Homo sapiens: one gene and its partners. The protein of the gene in region 2 purifies or fractionates together with the protein of the main gene of each other region. This does not show direct contact. Each region holds a gene or a part of one and is shown on either strand. Other genes may lie near its edges. The genes, in order: UTRN, ADRA1D, DTNA and CTNNAL1.

The links.
Region 1: the proteins of ADRA1D (region 2) and UTRN purify together in Homo sapiens (tandem affinity purification; 4 studies listed by BioGRID and IntAct, with this or other methods). This does not show direct contact.
Region 3: the proteins of ADRA1D (region 2) and DTNA purify together in Homo sapiens (tandem affinity purification; 4 studies listed by BioGRID and IntAct, with this or other methods). This does not show direct contact.
Region 4: the proteins of ADRA1D (region 2) and CTNNAL1 purify together in Homo sapiens (tandem affinity purification; 3 studies listed by IntAct, with this or other methods). This does not show direct contact.

Annotation. Positions count from the first base shown.
Region 1 is NC_000006.12:144,455,994-144,463,693, reverse strand, and holds part of UTRN (utrophin), read right to left. Parts: intron 4,925-7,700; coding exon 4,683-4,924; intron 4,521-4,682; coding exon 4,340-4,520; intron 2,498-4,339; coding exon 2,352-2,497; intron 1,041-2,351; coding exon 828-1,040; intron 1-827.
Region 2 is NC_000020.11:4,239,030-4,246,729, forward strand, and holds part of ADRA1D (alpha-1D adrenergic receptor), read right to left. Parts: intron 1-7,700. UniProt on the Homo sapiens protein: This alpha-adrenergic receptor mediates its effect through the influx of extracellular calcium.
Region 3 is NC_000018.10:34,712,737-34,720,436, reverse strand, and holds part of DTNA (dystrobrevin alpha), read right to left. Parts: intron 1-7,700. UniProt on the Homo sapiens protein: May be involved in the formation and stability of synapses as well as being involved in the clustering of nicotinic acetylcholine receptors.
Region 4 is NC_000009.12:109,002,800-109,010,499, forward strand, and holds part of CTNNAL1 (alpha-catulin), read right to left. Parts: intron 4,008-7,700; exon of another isoform or gene 3,681-4,007; intron 1,384-3,680; exon of another isoform or gene 1,297-1,383; intron 1,050-1,296; exon of another isoform or gene 884-1,049; intron 1-883. UniProt on the Homo sapiens protein: May modulate the Rho pathway signaling by providing a scaffold for the Lbc Rho guanine nucleotide exchange factor (ARHGEF1).

The DNA of each region.
Region 1 (7,700 bases), on a different chromosome or scaffold from region 2:
CATCTTGGCATACATCGGTGAATAAGAAATTTAAAAAAGACAAAGATCCCTGACTGATGGGGAAAAAAAAAAAAAAAGACCAAGGTAAGGAGTCACTGGAGGATAGGAAGCCTTGCAGGGAGAGAGTGTGATTGGTTCATTCTCCACCCAGAACTTTCCTATTAAAATACCAGGTGACCTGGAAACTCTGCTTCTCCATCTTTCTCACAGGCAGAATGTTAAAATCTGACACTGACTTCTATTGACATTGACTCTCTCCTTATACATCCTCACATTTATCCTTTCCTCTTAAACTTTATCACTGCTGCATCTGTCAACATTTTCAGGTGTAGTGAAGGATCCTGTTTCTGAATTTTCATGTCCCTGGAACGATTTGCCTTCCCACTCTGACACTGTCAATGGCCTATCTCTGACTTTTGACTTCAAATGTCAAAAACCTGCAAAAAGTAGTTTCATGTATTCAGCAATTTACTACTACCTGGGCTATTTCTACCACCCCAACCAAGTTACTACTATAATCTAATCAACAGTCTGTATTTCACACAGGCCCTCCATGCCTGAAACATTATTTTGACCATTTTTAAGCAATTTTCTCTTATCTTCAAGGTCCAGTTTACTCTACTTTTGACTTTGCTTCCAGGCAAAAGGAAATAAATGTGCTCTCTAGCACATTAAAAGTACATCTTTGATAAGTCCCAACTTAAATACATAATAAATGGGGATCTAGAAAGAATGTAAAATATTTAAATAATAAATACGTGAATCTTATAAGATAATTACTATTTACCCCGTAATAAACTTAAACTCCCAGTGGCCTCTGGATTTACCTCAAAAGCTCTGAGTGTGAGAGCAATTTCCTCAAGCAAATGTAGATCTTTGGAAACCAAGACCTTTAGCTTGTTCCACTTTCCTTGCACATCATCAAATTCTTGCTTATATAATTTTTCTACATCAGGATGAACATTTTTCTCCAGAGCCTTTGTTTCTTCTGCAAGTTTATGTAATGCAGGTTTCTGATTCTCAAGGATTTCATCAAGGGTCTGGAAAAAGTTTTAAAAGATTAAAAATATGCACAAAAATGTGTCTGCACAGATATAGTAAAATGGGCTATATAAAGTCAAAAGTCACTTTAAAATGCATTAGAAAGCATTTTTATCTAAAAAGAACAGTGGGTGGGAGTGTGAATTAGTTCAACCACTGTGGAAGACAGTGTGGTGATTCCTCAAAGACCTAAAACCAGAAATGCCATTTGACCCAGCAATCTCACTGGGTATATACCCAAAGGAATACAAATCATTCTGTTATAAAGATATATGCACACTATGTTCATTGCAGCACAATTCACAATAGCAAGGACAAGGAATCAACCCAAATGCCCATCAATGATAGACTACTTAAAGAAAATGTGGTACATATCAACCATGGAATACTATGCAGCCATAAAAAGGAACAAGATCATGTCCTTTGCAGGTATATGGATGGAGCTGGAAGCCATTATCCTCGGCAAACTAATTCAGAAACAACAAAAAAAAATACCGCATATTCTCACTTATAAGTGGGAGCTGAATAATGAGAACATACGGACACATGGTGGGGAAAAACACACACTGGGGTCTGTTGGAGGGTGGGGCATGGTGGGAGGGAAAGCATCAGGAAGAAGAGCTAATGGATGCTGGGCTTAATACGTAGTGCAGCAAACTACCATGACACACGTTTACCCATTTAACAAACCTGCACATCCTGCACAAGTACCCCTGAACTTAAAATAAAAGTTGGAAATCAAAAAACAAAACAAAACAAAACATGAAAAACTCATGAAAAAAATAGGCATAATCATAAAAATTAAAGCTTTTTCTTCATGAGTTGTGTGTGGGCAATACAGTGTATTCTCAACCCTAAAAACCAAGGGAACAGCAAACCCAGTGTGGGCCAAGTGTGCAGTGCTCAATGGCTGCTCTCCTTTTCATCTAATAGCACAGAGCCATAAGGCTACTCAACTAAATGACCTCGGAAACATTCCTATTCGATGCAGAAAAAAGTATACATCAACACGTCAACTGATAGTCCTCATTTCATAAAGATATTTTAGCAGATTTTATGAACAGGTTGAGAATTTTAAGCTAATCACAGCAGAAGGAGAAAATATGCTTTTCTTCTATGAAAAAATTTTTAATAACTGTACTTTCTTTTATGTGAGGTCAAACTAACCCTCAAATCATAAACACATTTTTGCACCAATGATGAACAAAACTGACCAACTTTTTTTTTAATCTCTGAAAAAACATTTCAAAATATGTAAGAGGAGATATTAGAAGAAGCGCTAGAGTTCTAACATGGAAGATATATGTTACCTTTTTTTCTTGCAGGGCCTTCTCCACCTTGGCAAGATCATTAAGGACATTCAGAGACACCTGGGCCTTATTTTCTGAATCATTTAGCACATCTTTCAGTGTTTTCAATGTTTCCAGATATGCATGTCCAGGTTGGCCCTTCAGTTCTGTTTATTTAAAAATATTTAGTTTGAAAAAATCATATTAGGAACCAATATTATTACATAGACCATTATCCTAAATGAATTCCAATACATGGCAAAGGAGACCCCATGATTAAAATGTAAAAGGGTCTCTGTTAATTAACAACATAGATCATTCCATTGGCATTTCTGAGAGTCAGACAGTGACTTCATTCCTGCGGATGTTGACGTTTGAAATATTAACTAACCCACTATAATTTTTCTTCATTTCTTCATGATGAAATGTCTCTCTGAAGATGGAACAACAATGTCCCTTTTGTTCCATATAATCTCCTCTTCCTTAACAGCTACACAAAGAATAAAAGAAAACAAAGATCCCTTCAACCAGTCTTGCTGTAAGCTCCACCGTGTAGACAAACCCAGGTCCAGAGTGGAGGAGATTATATGGAAATACTGCCACCATGCTGCCCAGGTACCCTGAGAAATAATGACTGAACAGCCAGCTGGAACAGTGTCTACCTCAGTCACTAATGTAAAAATATCACAGAAGTAACACTTGCGTGGAAAGGAAGTGAGTTCTCTTGAAGCACAAAGAGGTGAAACCAACTAGCAGCAAAAGTTAAACTGCCTACTGATCCTTGTCAAAAGTGAAAGCACAGCTTGTACCAATAAGTGGAGAAAGAGGTACCCTCAAAGACATATTTCACATAACTGAATTCAAGGAACAAAGACATGCTGTCCAGATGCACTTTCAGAAGAAAGGCAATACGACACATTTGCCTAGCATGCACACATACAGACACTTCCAGTCATCACACAATCTACAATTGCTGAAGTTAGGCTGGGTTACATGTGGAGCATTTCACACAATGCTCAATGCATTTCACAAAATAATGCACAATGCAACACAGTTCCTAACTCAAATGGCAGCTAGGAAGTAAATAGTGTAACGTAGGAGGGATGAGCTTTCAAAATCTTTAACAGTGAACCTTCCAAAACCAAGTGTATTCCAAAAGTAAGAACTCTAAAATTTTTCTGAATCTGACAGTGGAATATGATTTCTTTTAAAAGACAGTATGAGACTGCCAAAACTTTAACTATTTTGAGGAAACAGAAGTAAGGGATCATTCATTTTGATCCTCCTAGCAATGATATTAAGTGGCCTCCTCAACCAAAGGAAGAAATTGCACCTGTTTCTCAAAAAAAAAAAAAAAAAAAATCTTTAAAAATCATTATATCCAGGTCAGGTACAATGGCTGACACCTGTTATCCCTGGTATTTTGGGAGGCTAACATCTGTTATTTTGCCTAACACCTGTTATTTTGGGAGGCTGTTATATCACCTGTTATAATGGCTTACACCTGTTATTTTGGGAGGCTGAGGTGGGAAGATCACTTGAGCCCAGGAGTTCTAGACCAGCGTGGGCAACATAGCTAGACCCTGGCTCTACTAAAAATAAAAAACCAGCCAGGCATGGTGGTGCATGCCTGTAGTCCCAGCTACTCAGTAGGCTGAGGCAGAAGGACCACTGAAACCCAGGAGGTCAAGACTGCAGCTATGATTGCACCACTGCTCTCCAGCCTGGGTGACAGAGTGAGATCCTGTAGCTACAAAAAAAAAAATTATTATTATATCCTACTGACACAATTTTAGAGAATGTGAAACTTGCTTGTATGTTTACAAAAAGGTGTGAATCTGGAAAAGAATCTGAATACAGAAGACTTTAAGACTTTGAACAATACAGGCACAAAGGAAAATGGAGAAGGTTGGTGCAAAGCAAGCAAGTGTACTCAAGTTCTAAATGTTGGGAGTCATGTTTACATTAAGGCAAACTGAGACAGGAGATTTTAAAATTGTTGGGTTTACCATTCTCTAGATGTTGTTGACGATCCTCTACAGCCTCTTGTACAGCTTGGTAGCGGCCCAGAAAGCTATCGAAGCCCCGCTGGACAAAATCTGGGGCAGAAGGCTGAGACATCAGGGCCGAGCAGCTTGCACGAGCCATTTCAATTTTGGGGTGAAGGCCAAGAAGATTTGTCAATTCCCGCTAAGGAAGAGAAAATACGGTCACACAACTCACTGAAGATGAACATCCTCACAGGAAGTTAATCAGGGCAGCATTAACTTAAAGTTCATGATACGAGAAGCCCTCCTTAACTCTGGAACTGCACATAGAATTCCTCCACTTTCCAGACCGTTGGCTCCTTACCTGACAGGAATCCTTCAAGCTTGGCAAGGACTGCCGGGAAGATTCAGAAATGGAAGTGTGTTTTACCCACTCCTCCTTTGTCTTGATGACCTTTTCAAGCTCATCAAGCTGCTTGAAATAAGCATTTATATCTTCCTGTAGCTGAATCTTTCTTTCTAGATCTTCCAAATGTTGAGATACATTCTTCCATTCTGATGAAACCTTCTCCAGAACATTTTTTATTTCTTCAGTAGGAAGGCCTTCTATGCAGACATGAAAAACAAGCAAACAGTCTATATATTACAAAATGTGTCTTGAATTTATTCTGAACATTCTAACACTCAGAATAGTGAGGCAATGTCACACATAATGATCACTTTCTTAAGTCCCTTTTAATACAACAACAAAAATTTATAATGATGCACTTAAAAATAATGATGTTTATTTCAATTCCTTGAACAAAGAAGAAAGACATTTTAAAATAACGATTCAGGCACATCAGTAGAACTTCAGCCACTGCCTTTTCTAGATAATATATGTTTCCATCCATGCCATGCTTCTACTCTGCTAGTTTATCACCTGAACCAGTGAAATAAGATCAACTACCTTGATCTGTCTAGGCCCGACTTCAGAAAGAAGACCCTTTGTCCTAAGAAAAAAAGAAAGCTGGCTAGAAAAACTAGGAGGCAGCTCAGGTCTTGGTGACCAAAGCACAGTGTCATATAAATTAAAAAATGAATGGCGAGGATGCCTTATGCTGGGAAGCAACCTGGTGAGTGCAGGAATATTAAGCCAGCAGCCAGGCTCTAGAAGCATCAGCAAGCCCACTGGAGACCTTGCACATAAATAAGCAAATACCAAAAGACTGAGGCAGCAATAAGATGATCTACTTTAGAAACACATCAGGGAAAACAATGCCACCATTTTTATTACTGAAATCTTATCATTTTATTTGTCCGATATTTTTGAAAAGTAGAGAATGTTCCTAAAAATAATAAAGTCATATATAATAATAGGTTTTATCATAGTCCTTCCCTTAATCTAAAATACCTTCAAATCCTCTAAAATGACTATGAAAAAGTATGGGAAATCTTCAAAGGAATCTTTCTATTCGGAGGAAAACATGCATACCAAAAGGATGGCTTCACATTTTTATTGAGTAGGAAAGCAATAAAACAATCCTGCTTTATAAACATATATGATCAAAATCCAGGATAATGAGAGCTTGAACTAAAAAACAAAGGCATAAAAACAAAAAGTCATGTATGATCCACAGACAATGCAACTTTGAAAATTTTTATAATACACTGTGTCTACTGAAAATCATAAATGAGGGCATATCATGCTGTCATTTGAATGTGTCACCTATGTCAATTGCAGAAGTTCACTGTTCACCACCATCTCTCAGGTAAGAGAATATGAGACATAAGCAAAGCATTCACACCACAAGCCATGCTGCATTACCCCTGTTAATGGGGAGAGTATACAAAACAAATCACCATTTTCCTAACAATATGAACAATGGAGATATGGGTCATGCCCCTGCCCCATCATTTCTATTCTAGGCAGGCAAAGGAATAGTAACACCAGCCACATCATCTTTATGTTGGACAATTCATACTAATCAAGGAAGAAAATTAAGTAGGTAAATAAAATTTCTGAGATGGAAAATTACCACTACTCATCTAGAAAACTGGAAAGAGGTGCTCACTTCAAGAACAAGGGCGGTTAAAACAACTTCAGTTATTTTTTCACTGACAATGTCTTACAAGCCATTCATTTTGCCTCTTTAAACCAATTTTAAACATCTGAATCTCCCTTTCTCTAATCCTGAGATATTGCTGGTTACAGTGATGCCCGGTAATGATTCAAACACAATTTACATCTTATAAAAGGAAAACTGCACATTGTCTTTAAAAATAGTTGTTTTACTCCCAGAGATCCAGAGTTTAAAATTTTCTATTTCTATAAAACACAGAGTTCTTAGAAGGTGACTAGTCAAAAGGCAAAATCAACAGAAGATCACTTTATTAATTGTCTAAAAGGGAGAACATAGAACACATTCCTGCCACTCAGTCTCACTTGACTTTACACTTCTCAGTCTATCACTATTGGAATCAAGGGAAACGTTTACAAAACATAGGACCTTCACCAAACTTCCTGGGCTTATATGCTTAGGCAACCACAATGGGCATTGATTCATAAAGCCACATTATCCAGATGCCCAACTACTCTACTGTATTTTACTAGATGAAGAGCTCTAGGAACAAGATAAGCTAAACGAAGAAAACCAAGTATATCAGCTATGAAAGTCAAATGAAACACACTATTTTATTTATTATTATTATTATTATTATTATTATTATTATTATTATTATTTTGAGACAGAGTCTTGCTCTGTCACCAGGCTGGAGTGTAGTGGTGCAATCTCAGCTCACTGCAACCTCCGACTCCCTGGTTCAAGCGATTCTCCTGCCTCAGCCTCCTGAGTAACTGAGATTACAGGCATGTGCCACCATGCCCAGCTAATTTTTGTATTTTTAGTAGAGACGAGGTTTCACCATGTTGCCCAGGATGGTGTTGATCTCCTGACCTCGTGACCCACCCACCTCGGCCTCCCAAAGTTCTGGGATTACAGGTGTGAGCCACTGCGCCCAGCCTCACGCTATTTTATTTTCTAAAATTGTTTCTATGCTCTATGAGATACCTCAAAACTTATGTAAAATGCATTAGGCAGGAAAGACCTATCAGAATTGGCTATGGTGGGCTTTTTGATGGAACTGGTTTCAGAAAAACAGTGACGTGATTATTCAAATATGGGTTTTACTGAAGAATTTGACATGCCTCCCTAACTGAACTGGAACACACAGACTTTATCCAGTTCAGCTCCCCCATTTCTCAGCTTCCCACTGTTGTCCTAAAAAAAATTTTTTAATAGATGCATCTTTAAAACAAAAAAGAATTAGGGTCCTCTAATGAATGCATTTCTAATTCCACCAATGCTTGAAAAAACATGATAATACAAACTATAAAAGGTTT
Region 2 (7,700 bases):
CAGATGGACTCAGGAGGAAGAGCTTCACTGAGGATTCTGGGGGAGGGAGAGTAAAATGGGCACATGGACCAGGGCATAGGCCTTGGAGGAGGGGAGGAGGGGAAGGTCATTGTAGTCTCAAGGCCAGAGTGTCATCATGGGTCAGCCTCAGTACAGTGGAGTCACACTGATGACCAGGGTAGGGGTGGGAGTGAGGAAAAAACAGTGTGATTCTGATGCCCAGATCTTTAATGAATGGAGCAGGGTGATCAACAGTTCCTCAGATGTTTGGGACAAACATATCAGCAGGAGCTGGGCAGAGGACAAGATCTTCAGGGGAGGGGAAGGAGGAATATATGTCCAAGGACAGAAGTCCCCATCAGTGTTGTGTTTTTCTTCTACTGAAAATAAAATGTACTTCCTAGATCTGTCCATTGAATCAGTGACCAACTCAGTATCAATGAACAGCTCAGTCATCTTCCATTGAAACAGACTAGGGCTCTTTAGGGAAATGGCTAATTCCAGGTCTAGGGCAGAAAAAATGCAAGCTGAGCCTGAAGCATCTTATCAGATCAGAAAGCAAAGAAGAGCTCAAGATGCTCCAGGTTCTGCCAAAGATCTCAGAAGCCAACTGGAAGGAGTACCCACTGGCCAAGCCCAAAACAATGATGTCTGTGATGTGTTGGAACAGCAAGGATGTCTAAAAATAATGACATTACCATGGTACTCAAACAGCCTCAGTGGTCACGTCTGGAAAGAATGCTAGAGAACTGACTCTTCCTCTGATAAATAAAGAGGAATATTGAACATCTTCCCTGCCTTTGCTGTACAGATTCTATTTAACCAAACAGCTAGTGGTGAAATCATTTTAGAATGCTAGTGAATAAATGAAGGAGGTATGATAGGATTAGAATATCCCCACTTCAAGCCCCAGTGATATAATGGGTCCAGGCCATGGTCAATGGCTGCCAAAACCAGCAGGTGAAAGGCCGATGGGTCACTTTGTAATGGACAGAGCAGGCTGACAGCACATGAATTCTGGTCAATCTTGACACCACAGAAAAGAAGAATTCTTTCCAGGCCAAATCTGCACCCAGGAAGTACAGGGAACAGAGGGACACATTAAATGGCACTGTGGAGATGCAAACTCCAAACTACAGGATACACCTGGGGACAATCTGGTGTCTTCACTAAATAAATGGAAAGAAAAAAAAGCAGTGGAGGCTTACCGAGTAAAGAAACCTAATAGGCAAATCGACCATATGCAACGTGTGCTCCTTCTGTGGATTCTGCTTCAAACAAACCAACCAAAAATTTACGAGGCAGCCAGCAACATTTCAACACTAAGTAGATATTTGATGATATTAAATGATTTTATGTGTTATAATGGATTGTGGGCTTTTTTTTTTTTTTTTTACAGTTATTATCTTCTAGAACTATATATTGAAGGATTTACAGATGAAGGGATACTGTATCTGGATGTTCTTCAAAATAATCTACAGTGGCCGGGTGCAGTGGTTCATGCCTGTAATCCCAGCACTTTGGGAGGCCGAGGTGGGTGGATCACCTGAGGTCAGGAGTTTGATATCAGCCTGACCAACATGGTGAAACCCCGTCTCTACTAAAAATACAAAAATTAGCTGGGCATGGTGGTGCACACCTATAATCCCAGCTTCTTGGGAGGTTGAGGCACGAGAATCACTTGAACCCGGGAGGTGGAGGTTGCGGTAAGCTGAGATTGCGCCACTGCACTCCAGACTGGGAGACAGAGAGACTCCATCTCAAAAAACAAACAAACAAAAATCCAAAAGAATCTACAGTGATGGGACAGTGGGTGAGGATGGAAAGAATCTAGGTTAGCTTTGGGGTGAAGCTGGGTCACAGGTACACAGGGGTTCATTATACTAACAGGGTTCTCTCTATCAATGTATGTGTTTGAAACTTTCCATGTTAAAAACATGAAAAAAACCCAACCCTAGCTCATTGCTTATTCATAGTAATTACTCAATAAATATTAACTGTCCTGTTAAAGATTTTTTTTTTAGGCCACAAAAATGGGGACTCACCCCCAACCCACAACAAGTAAAGAGAGTTGACTTTAAATAGAGGGCTGTTATGCTAAGCGAAATAAGCCAGTCACAGAAGGAGAAATACTGCATGATTCCACTTACATGGGGGTCTCTAAAATACTCAAATGCGTAGACTCAAAGAGTGGGATGGTGGTTTCCAGGGAGAAAGGGCGCTAGGAAATTGGGAATTGCTAATCAATGGGCATAAAGTTTCAGTTTGGCAAGATAGATGAGTTCTAGGGGTCTGATGTGCAACAGTATCACATGATATGTATCCATAGTTAATGATATGTAGTTAATGATATGATATTTACACTTAAAAGTGTGTTAAGAGGGTAGAGCTCATGCTATATGCTCTTGCCACAATAAAAGAAAATTAAAATAATAAATAAATGGAGGGCTGTGCTTTGCCACCCAGACCCTTGGTGTGGCAGGATGGGAATAGAACATGGGTTCTACCGTTTCCTTCTTCTGCACACATTTACTGAGCACCTATTATGTTCCAGGTGCCACAAAGCACAGGTAGGAGATGTAATGCCAGCCCTTTCTTCAGGCTTTTGGGCCGGGAGACAATGATGCCATTACTGAAGACCTAGCACAAAGCATCCCTTGCCTCTCCCCTTCATCCACAGACCCCTGCACAACCTCAGGCAGCCTGTGGAGATGAGTCCTTTAGCACCTGGCCGACTCTCAGACATATGCATAATCCACTCTCCGCACGGGGCCACCAAAGTATGCCTTCCAGCCTGGACACCAATTACTAAGCAGGGCTCACAGCCTCCCCCCTGCCTCCTCCTGCCTTCTCTCTCACTGTAACAAAGGCATAACATGTAGACAGTCAAATTTAGAAAGCGTGTGTATCTGAAGCACACAGCACAGCCTGATGGCTCTGCATATGCATGCACCAATGTCATCACTACCCAGGTCAAGGTATGGAACTGTCCCAGCCCTTCAGAAAGTTTTCTAGCATTCTCTTCCAGTTAGTACACTCACTGCACACACACAGATGGGTAACCGCTATCCTGGATTTTATCACCATTGATAAGTTTCCCCTGTTTTTGAACTTCATCTACACAGAATCAAAAGGTGTGTACACCTTGAGTTTCAGACCTGGCTTATTTTGCGCAGTATAACATCCATGAAATTCATCCATGTGTGCATCAGTAGTTTGCTATTTTTCCTTGTACCGTGGTCCAGTCTATGGATACATGGTTTATTTATCCATTCTCCTGCAGATGGCATCTGGCCTCATCTCTTGACCCCTCTTCTCATAGGCTACACGTTTTACGTCTCCCAAACCACAGAGCAACCCAGCAATACTGCTACTCCTGTGCCTACGTGTGTGTAGTTCCCTTTGCCCTCACACTTCATGATGCATATCTGAATATTGACAGTTACAGTGCATCGTGATAAAAGTACATGCAGAGTGTTTCAGAAGCACATGGGACATCTAAGTCTGGGGGTGGTCAGCGACACAGGCACTATCACAGAGCACAGACTCACAAGATAGGAGAGAGGCTCAGGTGTGGCTCACAGATGGCTGGAGTGGGACATTGGCTGGGCTGTCCTGGGACTTCTGATATCAGAGCCTCTGCCCAGCTTGTATGCCTTGAGGTGCATTTGAGGGGGGCCCTGGGCTCTGAGTCTCCGGGCTGCTTTGAGTGGATGGCATTTGGAAGGTGGAGGTCAGTGATGCTCGGTGATCTGCCCAACAAGAGAGAGCTGGGATCGAAAGCCTGGGAGCTGTGAGTGGTCACTAGGAGTGACAGGGGTGGGGCTGTTGTGTGTGTGTGTGTGTTTGTGTGTGTATGTAGGTCTCGGCAGACAGTCCACCTCTGGGCGTGGCTGGGGGACACTTACCAGGCAGCCCAAACCCAAACGCAGTGAGATGCTGCCGCCATGAAAACACGCAGGAGGGACACGGGCCTCTGGAGGCTCCCGGGAGAGGAGGAAGCTTCTCTGCAGTTGGGTGCTTGCCTGGGGCAGGGTTTCCCCAGCCCCTCCGGTACCCCTCACACCCGCAGGGAGGATGATCTGCATTCTACACAATTGGCCTAGACCTCTAGGGTCAGGGGATTCTTGCACGAAGCTTCTCAGCGCAGAGGCTTCAGAGGCTTTTATCAGGGACTTTTCCAACCTACCCAACTGTCCCAACGACGCAGCCCCGCCGCAGCCACGCCCCCTCTCTCTGGGTCCTCTCTGGAAGTCCGCAGGCAGCAGGCTCTCACTGCGGCCCCTCCCACACTCACTCTACAAGTCTGGGCTCCTCGGGGCATCCGGCTGAAGGATCCCGATGAGGAGGGCAGATTTAGACAATTCCCTGTGATTTTCCGTGGCACCCAGCCCGCACCAGCTTGCTGCGGTGAGGGTAGGGGATTGTACCTGGCATGGGCGGGGCTGCCAAGAGCACTTCCTTCACAGGCCCCAGGGATTGGTGTCACTACGTTCTATCTCCAAAGTGGAGCATCTCTGACTGAAAGGGGAGCACTACTAGCTATCCCACCGGTCACAGGCAAGGAACGGGACTGTCCTGGGTCACTATGCACGGAGCAGGCAGCTCAACTGGGCATCACCACGGAACGTGGGCAGGAGGGTGCCCTCCCCTCTCTCTCGGTGAGGGGCGTTCTACACGCACCTCCGCACCTCTGGCACCAGCAGCTTCCTGGGGGTCCCAGAGGAGCTGGTGCTGCCCTCCCCAGCCTTGCTCCCTGAAATCGCAGCATCGGGGCACTTGCGGTCTAATGAGCTGGTTGACCCTCTGCCTGCCTTGGGGACATGCTCTGCAGTTGTTCCTCACAGGGAAAGCGGGGCAGCTGGAAGTGTAGGGGATGATCCCCAGCTACTCTCTGGGATTCTCTGGATTTTAGGTGCCCACATCTGTGTCCCAGTGTCTCCCAGCCAGTGACTTGGGTCCTTAGATGCCCCCACAGTTCAGGACAGCCCTCCTGTGGTGCTGCCCCTCTGGCCTGACCACAGCATTCCAGGTTTACAGGTGACAGCCCATGGCTCACAGTGCCAATGTTCCTCTGGAACTCCGGGCCCTTCCCTGAGACTCTTGATGCCCTCCAGGCCGCTGTGGCTGCTGCTACCACCTGGCTTTGTGTGCGGAAGTGTGAGTGAGGGCACCCCAGGTCTGCTGTGGCCCTACTGGGTGCCTTTACTTCCAGGGCCTATGTGGGCCCATTCCTTGCTGGCATATACATTGTTTCTCAATCTCTCCGTCTCTGGTGCTCGTCACAGCTAGTGTGGTGACCAGGACCTGGGAGGAGGCAGGTGCCACCTCAACAGCCATCCTGCTCCTCCTGGCTGCCTCTTTTTCTGCCTCCTTTGGGTCTTTCAACGTCAATGCTCCCCAAAGCTCTGTCCTGAGATCCTCTTTTCTCTCTCCTCCTCTTTCTGGGAGACTGCACTCCATGCTCCTGCAACCATCCCCATCTTTGATCCCTGCATCCAAGTTTCCAATGTTCTCTATCCCCTACCACACACCTGGTACCTCCACACCAACATATACCAGCCCCTGGGGGTCCACATTCCCCCCAAAAGTTGCTGCTCAGTGTTCCCTGTTCCTTCAAAGGTATCTCCCTCCTCCCAGGCCTGGGCCTCATGCTGGGGGTGTCAGGACCTCCTGGCCCCCTCTCCTTCCTGCACAGCCTCCAGACCCCTCCTGCTCCAAATGGGCTCTGCCCTCCCTCTCTGCTGCTTCTGCCCTCCAAGCCATACTGGGGCAGATCGGAATATTTTGTTTCCTTGTTTGGCCTCTGTCCTGTTTGCTCATCATTGCCAGATTCAACTCAATTCAGCTCCACCAGTGTCCCTGGGCTCTGCTCTGAGGCACTCGGAAAGGTGCCCTGAGAAGCCTGGTGCAGCACAGACCATTAGGAAGGAGGATTTAGGGCCTCCTCCACCCCCCAATTCCCTACACCACATGTGAGGCGCAGCAGAAATGTAAGGATTGAGAAAGAGCTGTGCGTGCCAGCAAGGAGCAAAGGTCATGGAAATTAAGGGATGACTTCCTGGAAGAGGGAGTCACGTGACGTGGACCTCAAAGAAAGCAGTGGCCTTTTGCAGTGTTGATTGGAACAAGGAAGAGTTAGAAAAACCTAACATTCAGCAGGATCAACGCACTGTGGAATACTCTCAAATGTACTGCTGTGAAAATGGCCCAGCATGGATAAATCTCAGCCACATAATGTTGGGTGAAATGGCAAATTGAAGAACGGTGATACGCATGGCAAGGTGCCATTCATATAAATCTCAAAGACAAACAAAACAGTATATTATTATGGATACAGATGTTTGTAGTAAGAGTATGAACATCTGTATAAGAGTGATATACTCCAGATTTATCTCTGGCGAGGCAGGGAGAGAAAGAGGAAGGGACAGGAGGAGGGGATCTAGTTATGGCTTGTTCTATTTATTTGAAAAGAGAGAGGAAGGGGTCTGAGGCAAATATGGCAAAATGTTAACATCTGTTCAGTATAGGTGATTACAGGCATGTGGGTGCTTGTTTTATTGTTTTCTCCTTATTTGTGCATTAAGCTAAAATTTTAAAGGAAGTTAAAAGGAAAAAAAAACAGGGAGCTGGCATTCTACACAGGTTGGGCGTTCCCTACAGGGGCCCAGTGTGAACCGAGGGGCAGGGGTTGAATGAGGGCACCCAGGAGCCCAGCACAGCTGGGCAAGGCTGGAGCAGGGGCTGGGGCGATGGGCCTGGGGGATGGGCTTGGATGTCTAAAGGGGCGGGCACCAACTTTCTCTTCCCTGCTTACTTGCCTGCTTCTCCTAGTGTGTTGCTTAGGGTCCGTTGCTTGCCCCATCCCTGCAACAACCTTTGGCTGGATGATTTTCAAGGGTTACTTATTCATTCCTTACCCTATATTGAGTATCCACTACAAAAGCTACAGTTCCACGATGGCCCTATAGATAGGCATGATTACCATCACCCCATCTCTATTTTATAGATAAAAAAGCCAGCAGAGAGGGGTTAAGGGATTTGCCCACGGTTACGCAGCTAGCGGGAGGGAGGCAGAGCTGGGATTGGCGCCAGAGCCTGTGATCCTCACTGCAGTGCTCTCTTTTGCTCCCCACATACCAGGCCCATGCTGAGTGCCGTGGACTCAGTGATGACCCAGGTGACACAGCCCTGCCCTCACACAGCTTCTGGGCCAGTCCCAGAAACAAAACAAGCAGCACACAGATGTAATTACAACCAATGATCTAGTGAAGGAAGCGAACCTTGTGCTTCAAGGGAGAAAACAAGGACACCACTGAGGGTCATGGGTCCAAGAAGGTCCCTCTGAAGAGGGAACATTTAAGCCAAGACCTAAAGGATAGAGTTGGCCAGGAGAGATTGGGAAGGACAGCGAAGTCGGAGAGAATAGCAAGTGCAAAGGCCTGAGGACAGGCAGGGGCTCCAGCAAGAAACCAGAAAGGGTCAGAGGGGAGGAGCCCAGAGCAGAGGGAAGCGGCAAGACCGTGACGGCAGAGAGGGGGAGGGCAGAGAGGGAGATGGCTCTCATTTGAGATCTCCATTGTAGGAAGGGGGACCACATGTCTGCATGGCCCCAGTTCCAGCCTGTGGTCCCAGTGTAAATATTCATAGTGTCCTATTTTGGTTCGGACAATAATATATTTGAAGGTCACCCTCTCATA
Region 3 (7,700 bases), on a different chromosome or scaffold from region 2:
GCATCATTCCCTGCTGGAAATCCAGTACAACAGAGGCATTGTTCTTTCATTGCCTGTATCTACAATGTTTAAGTATCTTTAATTATGCTTTTATTGACTTTCTTATTTCAGTTAGATTTCAGAGCCAGCTAATTTTCCATACAATTCTTTTTGTACAGAGGATGACAATCAACCCACCCCTACCAGCCCACATTATAGGGAAAGGAGATAAGAACCAAACTTTGAACCTAACTTTGTTCTAGAGTCTGGTTGGGTTCTGCCTGGGTCCACCTGCTTGACTTTGACTTTGTGACCCTTCCACCCCCTCATGACTATGCCTTGGCCAGCCTCTGGCCTGATTCCCTTTTCTGGCTGCCAACCTCGCACTAGCTCCCTTAGGTTATAAAAATATTAGCGCATTTAATTCCTAGTAAGACGGCAATGAACAAATTGACATATTATTCAAATACCAAGCTTGGAAGGGAATTCCATTTGCTCTTATTAGTACCATTAGCAGCAGTCATTCTCTGTCAGAAGGTCAGAGCCATGTAGATGAGTATATAGAACATTTCAATGAGGCCCATTCTTTGAGGTAAAAACTTCAACTGTGCCAGTCAAACTGATTGACAGTATTTGGGTAGAAGAAGAGTTTCTCCAATTTATAAGGGCATGCTCCTAAACAAAGCTTTCTTTACACTTTACATAAGAAAAATCCAGAGCTGCCCTAAAAATCTTGTTACTATTTCTGAGCAGTGTCGGTGTAGAATGACATAAATACCGGAAAGTCTTCTAAATCTTATTACATAATGATAATTGCTAACATTTTTGCAGGTTTACTATATGTCAGGCACTTTGTGAGCACGTTACAAGTATCATCTCTGTACATATTATAAAATTAACATAGATTAAGAGTAGGCAGGATGGCGTAGTAGTTGAGCTGATTAAATAGAGCTCTCTCTGATTAACTGTATGCTGTTTGGGGGATTACTTAACCTCTCGGGCCTTAATTTCTTCATCTGTAAAATAAAGATGGTAAAAGTACCCTGCTCATAGGGTTGTTGTGAGGATTGATGGAGAGATAATAACTACTTATTTTTTTATTTTTTTATTTTTTGAGATGAAGTCTCACTCTGTCACCCAGGCTAGAATGCAGTGGTGCGATCTGGGGTCACTGCAACCTTCACCTCCCTGGTTCAAGTGATTCTCCTGCCTCAGCCTCCTGAGTAGCTGGGACTACAGTAGACCCACACCACCATGCCTGGCTAGTTTTTGTTTTGTTTTTGTATTTTTAGTAGAGACGGGGTTTCGCCATGTTGGTGCCAGACTGGTCTTGAACTCCTGACCTCAGGTGATCCACCCACCTTAGCCTCCCAAAGTACTGGGATTACAGACGTGAGCCACTGCATCCCACCACTACTTACATTTCTTCAGTGATTTCCATGTTCTATGACTGTTCTCCAAAAAAAAAGGGTTAATTGCCTTAAATAGGTTAAACAAAAAGTACTTAGAACAGTATCTGGCACTTAGAAAGTCTTCTATTTTCTTAAATCCGAGAACTCATGGAACTCTCACATGATGTGCTCCTCTCTGTCCTGCTGTATGTTCAGGTTTCCTAGTATCAAGCCACACATGGTCAGCACATTGCCCAAATGGCTGCTATTCTTTCCTCACTCACTCTGGCTTGTAGTTACTGCCAAAGTCCTCCTTACAGTCAGACTAATGCCCATACTCTTCAGTAATACCTTTCTCCTTTCATTTCTTTATGACCAAGACCATACTCCACCTCCTCCACCATTTTTCTGCATTTTCCACCCTTCTTTTTTTGACTGCAGTGATCATAAGGCTTTGGAAGAAATAAAACCTAACGTCTTATTAGAAAACAGTGGGGGCTTTGATGCTGGAATAACAGCTTCTACTGTCTTCCCACCTATAAATGAACCTGGATATACTGCCAAGAGAAAAAAGTCCATCAAAATGGGGTAAAGACTGGAGAAGAATAATGTACCCAAATCATAAATTCAACAGACGATTGCTTTTTTGACCTTTCTAAACGATGCCTAATTATATACTTTTAAAATTCTTGTATTTTTGGAAGAAATAAAAACACTATTTGTCAAAATCAAAGAATGTTAAGATTTTAACGAAAGAGGAAGTCTCATAAATATTAAGTTTCCACCTCAGTTACATTACATCCCCAAACAAAATTGTCATGTGTCATACATTTCAACTACATACATGATGTAGTTGCGCCTACTTCCAAGAGGATGATTTATGTAAGTTGGTCCTGTTTGAAAAACTTGCATATTGTAAGATACGCTCAGTTTCCTTGGCCACAAAAATCCTGCTCCAGCATTGTATGCAGTAATCGACAATTTTCAAGGGGGCTTAAAAGATAAATCAGTTGTTCTCTACCTGACTTATTGTAAAGAGAAGCAACAGACAAAACACCTCTCAAATCTACTCTTTTTAAATTCTACTTTCATCCCCTTAGCTCATAACCTCCCTCATACTTGTTCTGGATTGTAACATTAACTTCTGGACTCATTTCTGTCTACACACTAGTCTATTTTCTGTGCTGCTGCCATTATTACATTTCCAGACATTTCTGATTCTCATCTCTCCCTGGTTTTCCCATACTGTTCTGTTTCTCAAGATCCTCCTTTCCCCAGCTTCCTATTGAACACTGGCCATTTCTTTAAGGTTTATCCCAGTGCTTCCTTCTCCACACAGCATTTTCTCTCCCCTCCTCTGTAATATCTGCTCTGCACCATTTACTCCTTAGGATACTCCAAGGATTTCCTGAATCAAGGAACTCTGCACTACTACTATCTTTTCAATGTCAGTGTCCAACACAAATATATTCAATATAAGGTTTTTTAAAAAAAATAAATGAGAAAATGAATGAGCATTAAAATTCTTAAGCAAACAAAACTACAGACTACTTGAGACCAACACTTCTCTGGAAAATCTTGGACTTGCAGTCACTAGAATCAAAGGATTTCATTGATCTGTATTTCTGTAGATAAAAGGGAAATTGCACAAAGAATACTCACCTTCTTGTCCTATCTATATCATCCGAATTTAGCAGAGGTGCTTGAAATTAACCTCCGATATTAAATAAAAGACCCTATTTGTTGTGCTTAATTCTAGAGTGTCACTGTCTATTAAGATAGCACTAGACACACGTGGCTATTTCAATTACTTAGCATTAAATAAGATTTGAAATCTGTTTCATCAGTCGCACTAGCTACCTTTCAAGTGTTTAATAGCCACATGTGGCTAGTAGTTACTATATTGGACTAAGAAGATATAGAGCATTTCCAGCATCACAGAATTTTGAACAGATTGCTCTGGAGCTCTGCCTCTCCACCACACCTAAATGTAGGTGTGGCCCAGTTATTCAAGCCCAGTTATCCTCTGCCCATCCTTATATGAGCAGAAATTTCTTTAGAATAAATTTCAAAAACTAATAATTGGAATGTATACCCTATTTAAAATATTTTGTTATTTTCTCTCACAGTCAAGGCATTCCAGATTTTACCATTTGGTATTGAATTTCAGTGAAATTATAAAAATCTACCCTTCCCACTTGATATGAGACTTCTTATTTGCAAATCAGCGGTGAAGACAAACACATATACATGGGTAAAGGGATTCACAGACTTTTCTACTCTTTAACATTATTATTTTAATAATTTCATAAATTTGCATATTTATATTAACTCAGCTAGTTAGTAGCATGATTCAGGCATTCCAATTCTTAAGCCAAGACTCTTTTTCTACACCATGTTGCCTATACATGTTCCATCTAAAGAGTTGGGAAGTCAACAGTTAGACCAGCATATAGCCATGTCTATGACTTCTTGCAGCTTTTTTTCTTTCTTTCTTTTAATTGAGATGGAGTTTCACTCTTGTTGCCCAGGCCGGAGTACAATGGTGTGATCTCGGCTCACTGCAACCTCCGCCTCCTGGGTTCAAGCGATTCTCTTGCCTCAGCCTCACAAGTAGCTGGGATTACAGGCGCCTGCCACCACGCCCAGCTAATTTTTTGTATTTTTAGGACAGATGGGGTTTCACTACGTTGGCCAGGCTGGTCTCCAACTCCTGATCTCAGGCGATCCACCCGCCTCGGCCTCCCAAAGTGTTGGGATAACAGGTGTGAGCCACGGTGCCCGGCCGACTTCTTACAGCTTTATAGCTTCTAGAGAGGAAATACGAGCTCATGTGTTTTCTATATTTCTTGGATTTTCTTTTTCAGACTGCTATTGTCTGAAACAACGAAAAACTATGTAAATACGTTAGACTATTTATTTTGTTAGGACATATTCCTAGTAGTAGAACTGTAGGGCCCAAGGATATGCAATTTTTAAAGACTTTGCTACACATTGCCAGCTTGATCAACTCCCCACCTGCACCCAGTGTACACTGCTATATGATAGCAGTGTATATGTGTTCCCATTTTCCAGACTTTTCCTAAACCAGACATTATCTCCCCCTTCCTCCTTTTGCTTTCCCCTTTAAAAAATAGTTGCTAATTATTAAAATGACATGTGTTTAATTTGTAGATATTTTTAAAATTAAAAGGGAAGTGCTTTTTCTTACAGATTTATGAGACCTCATTACATAACATGGATATTCACTTTTTCTCTTTCATATATGTTGCAAATGTTGTTTCTAATTTGCCATTTATCTTTTTAATTTTGTATATAACATATTCTAGAAGGAGTAAGTTTTCATATTACCATTCCTTTATGATTTTTGTCTTTGAGGTCATCCTTTTCTATCATAAGTTCTATATTTTCTTTCACTACTTTCATAGATCCATATTTTATACTGGAATTGCCAATCCATCCAGTATTTTCTTTCATGTCAGGGATGTGTAGAGGTAAGTAATTTTTCTGAGTAAATGTTCCACCAAACAAATCAAAATTAACAGGTTTCAGATATAAAATATTGTTTATTTAAAATAAATAATTAAAAAATTAAAAACAATTAAAATATTGAAATGGTGTCTAGTGAACATTTCATAACATGTGTGTTTGAGAGTGGGGAATTATTATAGTAATACCACTCTAAAATATCCAGCTAATAATACCATGAAGTGAAGACCAGTTAATTGCCCCTTTATATACTAAAAATATAACTAATTGTTCTTTCCTAGAAATGAGTTTGCATTTTTCCTGTCAGATACTGACCCACACATTGTACAATTCTTGATAAGTTTAATCATTTTTTTTTCTATTTTTTATTATTATACTTTAAGTTTTAGGGTACATGTGCACATTGTGCAGGTTAGTTACATATGTATACATGTGCCATGCTGGTGTGCTGCACCCACTAACTCGTCATCTAGCATTAGGTATATCTCCCAATGCTATCCCTCCCCCCTCCCCCCATCCCACAACAGTCCCCAGAGTGTGATATTCCCCTTCCTGTGTCCATGTGATCTCATTGTTCAATTCCCACCTATGAGTGAGAATATGCGGTGTTTGGTTTTTTGTTCTTGCGATAGTTTACTGAGAGTGATGATTTCCAGTTTCATCCATGTCCCTACAAAGGACATGAACTCATTATTTTTTATGGCTGCATAGTATTCCATGGTGTGTATGTGCCACATTTTCTTAATCCAGTCTATCATTGTTGGACGTTTGGCTTGGTTCCAAGTCTTTGCTATCGTGAATAATGCCACAATAAACATACGTGTGCATGTGTCTTTATAGCAGCATGATTTATGGGTGGCTGGGTCAAATGGTATTTCTAGTTCTAGATCCCTGAGGAATCGCCACACTGACTTCCACAATGGTTGAACTAGTTTACAGTCCCACCAACAGTGTAAAAGTGTTCCTATTTCTCCACATCCTCTCCAGCACCTGTTGTTTCCTGACTTTTTAATGATTGCCATTCTAACTGGTGTGAGATGGTATCTCATTGTGGTTTTGATTTGCATTTCTCTGATGGCCAGTGATGGTGAGCATTTTTTCATGTGTTTTTTGGCTGCATAAATGTCTTCTTTTGAGAAGTGTCTGTTCATGTCCTTTGCCCACTTTTTGATGGGGTTGTTTGTTTTTTTTCTTGTAAATTTGTTTGAGTTCATTGTAGATTCTGGATATTAGCCCTTTGTCAGATGAGTAGGTTGCGAAAATTTTCTCCCATTTTGTAGGTTGCCTGTTCACTCTGATGGTAGTTTCTTTTGCTGTGGAGAAGCTCTTTAGTTTAATTAGATCCCATTTGTCAATTTTGTCTTTTGTTGCCATTGCTTTTGGTGTTTTAGACATGAAGTCCTTGCCCATGCCTATGTCCTGAATGGCAATGCCTAGGTTTTCTTCTAGGGTTTTTATGGTGTTAGGTCTAACGTTTAAGTCTTTAATCCATCTTGAATTGATTTTTGTATAAGGTGTAAGGAAGGGATCCAGTTTCAGCTTTCTACATATGGCTAGCCAGTTTTCCCAGCACCATTTATTAAATAGGGAATCCTTTCCCCATTGCTTGTTTTTCTCAGGTTTGTCAAAGATCAGCATTCTTATACACCAACAACAGACAGAGAGCCAAATCATGAGTGAACTCCCATTCACAATTGCTTCAAAGAGAATAAAATACCTAGGAATCCAACTTACAAGGGATGTGAAGGACCTCTTCAAGGAGAACTACAAACCACTGCTCAAGGAAATAAAAGAGGATACAAACATTCCATGCTCATGGGTAGGAAGAATCAATATCGTGGAAATGGCCATACTGCCCAAGGTAATTTACAGATTCAATGCCATCCCCATCAAGCTACCAATGCCTTTCTTCACAGAATTGGAAAAAACTACTTTAAAGTTCATATGGAACCAAAAAAGAGCCCGCATCGCCAAGTCAATCCTAAGCCAAAAGAACAAAGCTGGAGGCATCACACTACCTGACTTCAAACTATACTACAAGGCTACAGTAACCAAAACAGCATGGTACTGGTACCAAAACAGAGATATAGATCAATGGAACAGAACAGAGCCCTCAGAAATAACGCTGCATATCTAAGTTTAATCATTTTTGATGACAGCCTCTATCGCTTATTGAACAAAACCAAGATATTTTATAATAAAGTCTGATAATAACATACCAAGCACCTCTATTCCTAGTGACTTATAAATGCTATTAACATAATTAATTAAATTTGAGGGTTAATTTCTGAGAATCATACTACCCATTAGTAATTTCCACTTTCCTTCTAAGAGCATTGGCCTTTTACTACACAAAGAGGCAAGAGCTTTCTAATCTATCTTATTCTCCAAATTAATCATTATTGTCGTTATCATTATCATCATGATCATGGTACCATTACTTTCTTTTTCATTTGAAAAGTCTTAGATTTCTAAAAAAAAAATCCAATTCTTTTCATGTCAAAAATTACATAGTGGTCAATAATAAAATTCACCTTAATAAAATCGGAGGTTAAAAAATAACTCCTAAAAATGGAGTATCTAGATGATATTGAGTCATCATTCATTGGCTTGATCTTCATCTATTTTAGAAATATTTTCTTGGAATTTAAATATCATTAATTTTTTAGCAGAGGCTATACTATTTTACTCAATATGGTTGTTTTTTAACATGTTAAAAAACTGTTAAATATCTGTCTCCTTAGTAGAGGTAAATGTTTGCAGATAATTATCTATTGGTCTATGACTCTAGGCAGCTCTAGAGATTAAAGCTAAAATGTTAACAAACACTACAAATTATTC
Region 4 (7,700 bases), on a different chromosome or scaffold from region 2:
ATGGAGAAACCCCATCTCCACTAAAAAAAAAAAAAAGAAAAAAGTTAGCCAGGTATGGTGGTGCATGGCTGTAATCCCAGCTTCTCGAGAGGCTGAGGCAAGAGAATCGCTTGAATCTGGGAGGTAGAGATTGCAGTAAGCCAAGATCGTGCCATTGCACTCCAGCCTGGGCAACAAGAGCAAAACTCCATCTCAAAAAAAAAAATCTTCTCCAGATGGCACATCATACTAAAATTAACAATGGCTTCCAGGCAAAAATAAAATCTAGGGCTGTGTCAAGAAAGCATCTAAAGATGAAGCTAAGGGTACGACTATAAAATCTTAAGATCTCAGAAAGGTCCAAGGTGTTGCTTCAGACAACCATTCAGGTAAACAACAGATCTCCCAAGAAGCCTAAAGATATTATTCCTCAGCAGTCCCAGGAGAAGCCCAAGTTAAAGAAGAGCATATATCAAAGAGACTTGTGGGTGTGGGCTTTTGTCTAGTAGAATGAATTCAATATGACTCACAGGAGACCAACAAAATTTTTAAGATAATCGTATTGGCAGAAACACTATCAGCTTGGACTAAAAGGGAATACATCTTTGTATGAAAAGAAGCTTTCATACCAGCCCCTGCTCCAAACTTCCATAAGCAGGGAACAGGCTGAGAAATCTACGCAGCTGCAAACATGAGCTACAATTCATGTAAAATAATGACTTAGAGGGCAGAATCAAGAGCCATGAACTATTCCCAGGACTTGAGTCTTAATCAAGGAACTGGCAACATTTGCCCAGGAGGAGTTCAGAATACCATAAACCAGTGGCTCCTATTTTTTTTCCATTTTTGAACAGGACTGTATAGCAGTTATTCTATACTTTCTATTTTCTCATTTTTTGAACAGAAGAGTCTATAGTAGTCATCCTAAAGCTGAAAGACGTTACACTTAAGGAACTACTACATACAAGAAGTCTCTCCTGGATCATATTTGTAATAGATGCCAACATCATGGATTTCCAGCTGATGTTGTGACTTTGGAGAGGATATGGATGGGAAGAGGTTACTTGCAGGTGAGAATAAGGTAAACAATTTGTGTGCAGAGGTTAGACTGTAGGTAGTTCTAAAATATGTCCACAAATTATTTGCTATTCCTCCCTTAAATAGGTGAAGTCTCATTCCCCTCTCCTTGAGTACAGGCTGAACTTAGCTACTTATTTCTAACTAATAGAATAAAACAGTAGTGACAGTATGCTACTTTTGAGGGCAAGTCATAAAGTCACTGTGGTTTTCATCTTTCTTTCTCTCGGTTCACCCTAGGGAAAGACAATTCCCATGTCATGAAGACACTTCACCGGCCAAGTGGGAAGGCTCACATCATGAGCCTAAGGAAACTGATGCTCAAAGGTGCTTATTTAAGGTCACACAGCTAATAAGTGCTAGAGTTAGGATTCAGAGTCAGACATTTCAATTCTAGAGACCGTACTCCTAAACATTACCCTATAATGTCGTACAACAATCCAGTGAAATAGGTTAATATTAATCATCCTCATTTCCCCAAATTGGAAAATGGGGGTAATAATCATCCCTATTTTACAAATGAGGAAGTTGGACATCAAGAAGTATGGGAGAGTTAGGATTTAAATCCAGATATTCTGACTGCAGAGACTAGCCTCTTAGCCACTTAGCCATATTGCCTTCTCTGACTTATAATGTTAGTAAGAAGAGTTGGCTGGGCGCAGTGGCTCACACTTGTAATCCCAGCACTTTGGGAGGCCAAGGTGGGCGGATCACGAGGTCAGGAATTTGAGACCAGCTTGGCCAACATGGTGAAATCCCATCTCTACTAGAAGTACAAAAATTAGCCGGGCATGGTGGTGTGCACCTATAATCCCAGCTACTCAGGAGGCTGAGGCAGGAGAATTGCTTGAACCTGGGAGGCAGAGGTTGCAGTGAGCTGAAATCATGGCATTGCACTCCAGCCCGGGTGACAGAGCGAGACTCTGTCTTGAAAAAAATAAATAAATAAATAAATAAATAAGAAGAGTTAATAAAATAATGAAAGCATTATGTTTAACATAGTACCATAAACAGTTTATTGTAAGTGTTCAAAGACATACTATAATTAGCTATCTTACTTAATCCTCAGGTATTATTAAAGATTAAAAAACTGAGGCTGAGTAAAATTGCATACTTGGCTCATACAACTAATAAGTAGCCTAGTTTAGAATTTGAACCCAGGTTTAAACTGACACCAAATCCCACCTAATAGTCCTTCTTTTACTGGAGGTTTACAATCTTTCCTATTTTTTTTAATTGAAATGTTACCTAAAAGCTCATTACATAATCATGTGAAAGAGTCACGATAATTTTAATTTGGAGAATGACTGTGGGCCATGCTGCTGGGAAGCACAGAACAAATCCTACTGGCACCAGCTTAATCCTTTTCCACACCTGACAGACTCTAGGGAATTGTTACTATCACATGAAAAAAAAAAGAGAACTTGCTCAGCATTGACTATTCCAAGCTACCATCTTGGAAGAGACTGCAGTGGAAAGGAGTTTAAGTTCTTGCTATAGATTGAATGTTTGTGTCCCATTCCCCCTCCCACTCCCCCTCCACAAATCCTTATGTTAAAATCCTAACCCCCAATGTGATGGTATTAGGAGGTGGGGCCTTTGGGAGACGATTAGTTCATGGGGGAGGAGCTCTCATGAATGGGATTAATGCCTTTTAAAAGAGGCCTCAGAAAGCTCTCTCACTCATTTCCACCCTGAGAGAACAGTGAGAAGACAGCTGTCCATGAACCAGAATGTGGACCCTCACTGGATACTGAATCTGCCTGAACCCTGATCCTAGACTACCCAGCCTACATAACTGTGAGGCATAAATTTCTGTTGTTTAAGGCACCCAGTCTATTTTTTATAGCAATCCGAACAGATTAAGGTGATTCTGTTTATTAAATATTTCATTTACATAAAGTTTTAAAATTTCAATTACAAAGAAAAGATCCTGCAATTAAGCCAAAATATGAACTATTGTTCCGTTCCAAAAGACACATTTTGCTTTCACTAGAAGCGCCTTCCCCAGTGCATAATTAGGTGTGGCTGCCTTCCTTTCACTGGAAAGCAGTCTAGGAAATGTTCAATCCAAATATAGTATGCCTTTAAAATTTTATTTAGAGGAACTAAGTCAATATGTAACATTCTTTATTTAAGGTCTACTTATATTCTAAAATTAGTTTCAAATGTTTTAAAAGGTAGGTTCAAAAGTTATACATGTTTATTGTTTATAAACAGAAATGGAAAATATAGGAGAGCCTCAAGAAATAAAAATTACCCATAATCCTACTAACCTCTGAGAATTCTGGCATAATTCTTTCCAGTCTTGTTTTGTACATATAGATACTTAAATACACAGTTTTACAAAATTGAGATTAAACTTCACTTTCCTTATCATATAAAAAATAAGACTAGCTAACATTTGTTAAGCACAACAGTACCAGGCACTAGCCTATGTGTTTTACATGTATCAATTCTTTTAATGCTTGCTTCTCCAGCATCTAATAGGTACATACTATTATTACCCTAATTTTACAGATACAAAATCTGAAATTTGAAGAAGTTAAGTATTTGCCCGAGGTCACAAAGCCAGGGGAGCTACCTACACTCTTAATCACTACACCGTCTCTCTTACCTTCCAGGATTATGTTAAGGATCAAGGAAAAGACAACTAGCAAGAGTGCTTTGTAAATCATAATATGCCAAATACAATCTTAACTATAGTTCTGCAAAAATAGGAATGATATTAAATTGAGAGTCATAACTTGGAGTTGCCCTGACACCAGAGTCTAGAGAACACCTAAATGAACCAGAGAAGAGGGCAGAAAAGGCATCCCTTGGGGAAGAAAGAAGATCTGGTGTACTAAAGAACTCTGCTGTGGAATAAAAGAATAAGAATTAGGGTTTACTTGATAGCTTCTAACAAAGGGTGTCAAGAAGTGCAAAACACCAAAGAATATCCCAGCAGTTAAGGGCATGGACATCATTCTGCCTGGTTTTGAATTCTGGCTCTGCCATGTGACCATGTGGCAAGCTATCTGACCTTTCTGTGACTCTGTGTTCTCACCTGTGAAAATGGAAATAATAATTGTACCCATCAGCCAGGCGTGGCAGATCACACCTGTAATCCCAGCACTTTGGGAGGCCAAGGCTGGTGGATCACCTGAGGTCAGGAGTTCAAGACCAGCCTGGCCAACATGGTGAAACTCCATCTCTACAAAAAAACAAACAAACAAAAAATTAGCCGGGCTTGATGTAAGGTGCCTGGGTGCCTGTAATCCCAACTACTTGGGAGGCAGAGGTGGGGGAATTGCTTGAACCCAGGAGGTGGAGGTTGCAGTGAGCCGAGATCCCGCCATTGCACTCCAGCCTGGGTGACAGAGCGAGACTCCATCACAAAAAAGAAAAAAAAGAAAAAAAAACACGCATGTATTCACATACACAAATCAGCAAAGAGCAGAGAGGGCGCCTTATCTACTCTCTTCATCGACAACATAACTGCAACAAGAATCCTGAAAAGCTTCCAGAACAATGCAGAGAGTAATGGGAAAATGAGGTAGGCTACCTTAGAAATTTAAGGGGTCTGTACAAATAGTGAATAAAGGAAATCTATCATAGACAGGAAAAGACTAGTGGGCAGTAGAATAATATTCCACACCAGGGTGGAGTTCTGTGGCAGATATCCTTCTTCCCTTCCTTGGATAAAAGCATTATAAGACTTGGAGTGGGAGTTCTGACAGGAAGAATAAAGTGATTATTAAAGGAGGTGGGGAGGTACTCTACATAAAATATGCTTGGTTCTTAGCCCAGGGCTTTTCAAGAAAATGTCTGAATTATAAAATATAAAACATATGAGTATATATAACATATATGTGTGGAGTTTAAAGAAATGAAAGAAAGACCTGTGCAGCCACCACCAAGCTTAAGAGAACAATGTCAGTATCTCTGACAGCCCATGTACTATCTGGCTACTCCTTGTCCATATCACTCTCTTGTCCCAAAAGAAACCATTGTCCCAATTTTGTGTTCACCACTCCTTTATTATAACTATTGTACATACAGTATACCCTAAATGATATCTGGTTTAGTTTTATCTGGTATTGAACCTTTATTTTTTTTCACTCAACATTATGTTTTTGAGATTCATCCCCATTGATAATTATAGCTGTGGTTTATTCATTTCAGTGACAGAGTATATCATTATATGAACATAGCACAATTTATGTAAACATACTACTGTTAAAAGACATTTGGGAAGTTTCCAGTTTTGGGCCATCAGAAGTAAAAATGCTATCCACATTCCAATCCATCTTTCTTTTTTTTTTTTTTTTTTTTTTTTGAGACAGAGTCTCACTCTGTTACCAGGCTGGAGTGCAGTGGCACAATCTCGGCTCACTGCAACCTCTGACTCCCAGGTTCAAGCAATTCTTCTGCCCCAGCCTCCCAAGTAGCTGGAATTACAGGCATGCACCACCACGCCAGCTAACTTTTGTATTTTTAGTAGAGACGGGGTTGGTCAGGCAGGTCTCAAACTCCCGACCTCAGGTGATCCACCCACCTCAGCCTCCCAAAGTGCTGGGATTACAGGCGTGAGCCACCACGCCCAGCCCCAATCCACTTTTCTAATAGGTGTGTAGGAGTTTCTCTAGGGGTACTGACTTAGGAGTGGAATTGCTGGGCCACAGGTAATGCCCACCTTCAATTATAATAGATTACAACAAACCATTTTCAAAATGGTTGTAACACGGATATTGCTACCATCTCCACGTTCCTCACCAACACTTATTCTCACTGTGGATTTTTTAGCTTGTAGTTCATTGAGTTCTAATGAAGTTGAATATCTTTTCCTATATCTTTTAGCTGTTTCCTCTTCTGTGAAATTATTTTTTGACCAATTTTTAATGGCTAATCTTTTTATTTTTTATTCATTGGAGTATTTTATTTATTCTAGGTACTACAAATCATTTGTTGGTTATTTGTGTTGGAATCATATTCTCCCACTTAATGACTTACGTTTTCCTTTTGATGAACAGAGGTTCTTTTTTTTTTTTTTTTTTTTTTTTTTTTTGAGACAGGGTCTCATTCTGTCACTCTGTCACCCAGGCTGAGTGAAGTGTTGTGATCACAGCTCACAGCAGGCTTAACCTCCCCAGCTCAAGCAATCCTCCCACCTCAGCCTCTAGAGTACCTGGGACCACAGGTGCATGCCATCACACCCGACTAATTTTTTGTATTTTTTGTAGAGACGGGGTTTCACCATGTTGCCCAGGCTGGTCTCAAAATCCTGGACTCAAATGATCTACCTACCTCAGCCTCCCAAAGAGCTGGGACTACAGGTGTGAGCCACTGCGCCTGGCCTAGGTTCTTCATTTTAAAGAAGTCGAATTTATCCATTTTTTTCTTAAGGTTTATACTTGTGGTATACTAACAAATCCTTTCCCAGCATAAGGTAATGAAGATACTGCCCTATTTTTTTTTTTCTAAAAGTGTTGTGAGCTTTTACTTTCATATTGTCTTTAATCCATCTGAAGTTGACTTTTTACTGGTATGAGACAGAGATCCAATTTCATAATTTCTATTTAGATATCCAATTGTCCCAGCTTAATTTTTTTTAAGTTCTTCCTTTCCCCACTGACCAGCAATGCCAATTGTCATTTACCGAGTTTCCATATATGTGTGGATCTGTTCTAGGGTTTTCTATTCTGTATCACAGGTCTATGTTTTTCAACCCTGTTCTGATACCCACATTGTCTTAATTACTATAGTTTTATAATGAGTCTTGAAATCTGGCAGAGCAAGTCCATCCACCTTGTTTCTCTTCTGCCTAATCTTGGCCCTTTGTGCTTTCATATAAACTTCAGAATTACTTTTATCAAGTTCTACTGAAAAATCTTGCTGAAATTTTCATGGAAATTGCATTAAATTGACCAATAGGGATAACTGATATGTCTATAATATGTCAACCTAGGCTTGAACACAGTACTTTTCTCCCATTTATTTAGATCCATGTTGGCTTTTGATAAAATTTTTAAATTTTCTCCATGAAGTTTGACCACTTTTGCTGTGTATACATAGAGATAGAGCTCTTTCTCTTTATATACATAGCAAAAGCAACATATTCTTAGGAAGCTCATATTTTGCTGTTACTGTTAATATAACTGGATTTTTTTAATAATTACTTTTTCTATTTTTTTTTATTATTTTTTAAAGACAGGGTCCTTGTTGGCCAGGCTGGAGCACAGTGGCGTGATCACAGCTAACTGCAGCCCTCAGCTGCTGGGCTCAAGCCATCCTCCCATTTTTTAGCCTCCTGAATAGCTGAGACTAGAGTAGCTGGGATTACAGGCACCAGCCAGTGCGCCTGTGCCTTGTTTGTTATCAATGTAGAAAAATGCAATTGATTTTAGTATCCTACACTCAGTGAACTTGCCAACACTCCTAATTTTTATAATTTACTTGTAGACTGTTTTGAGTTTTCTGCATAGGTTATTATATCACACTGAGACTTTTGGTTTTTCCTTTCCTATATTTATTCCTTTTATTTCTTCTCCTTGTCATATTACACTGGCTAGAATTTCCAGTGCAGTGCTGAGTAGAAGCATAGCAGGCACCCCACTCTGGTTTCTGGCTTTAAAGGAAATGTTTATTTTAAATTTGACTGT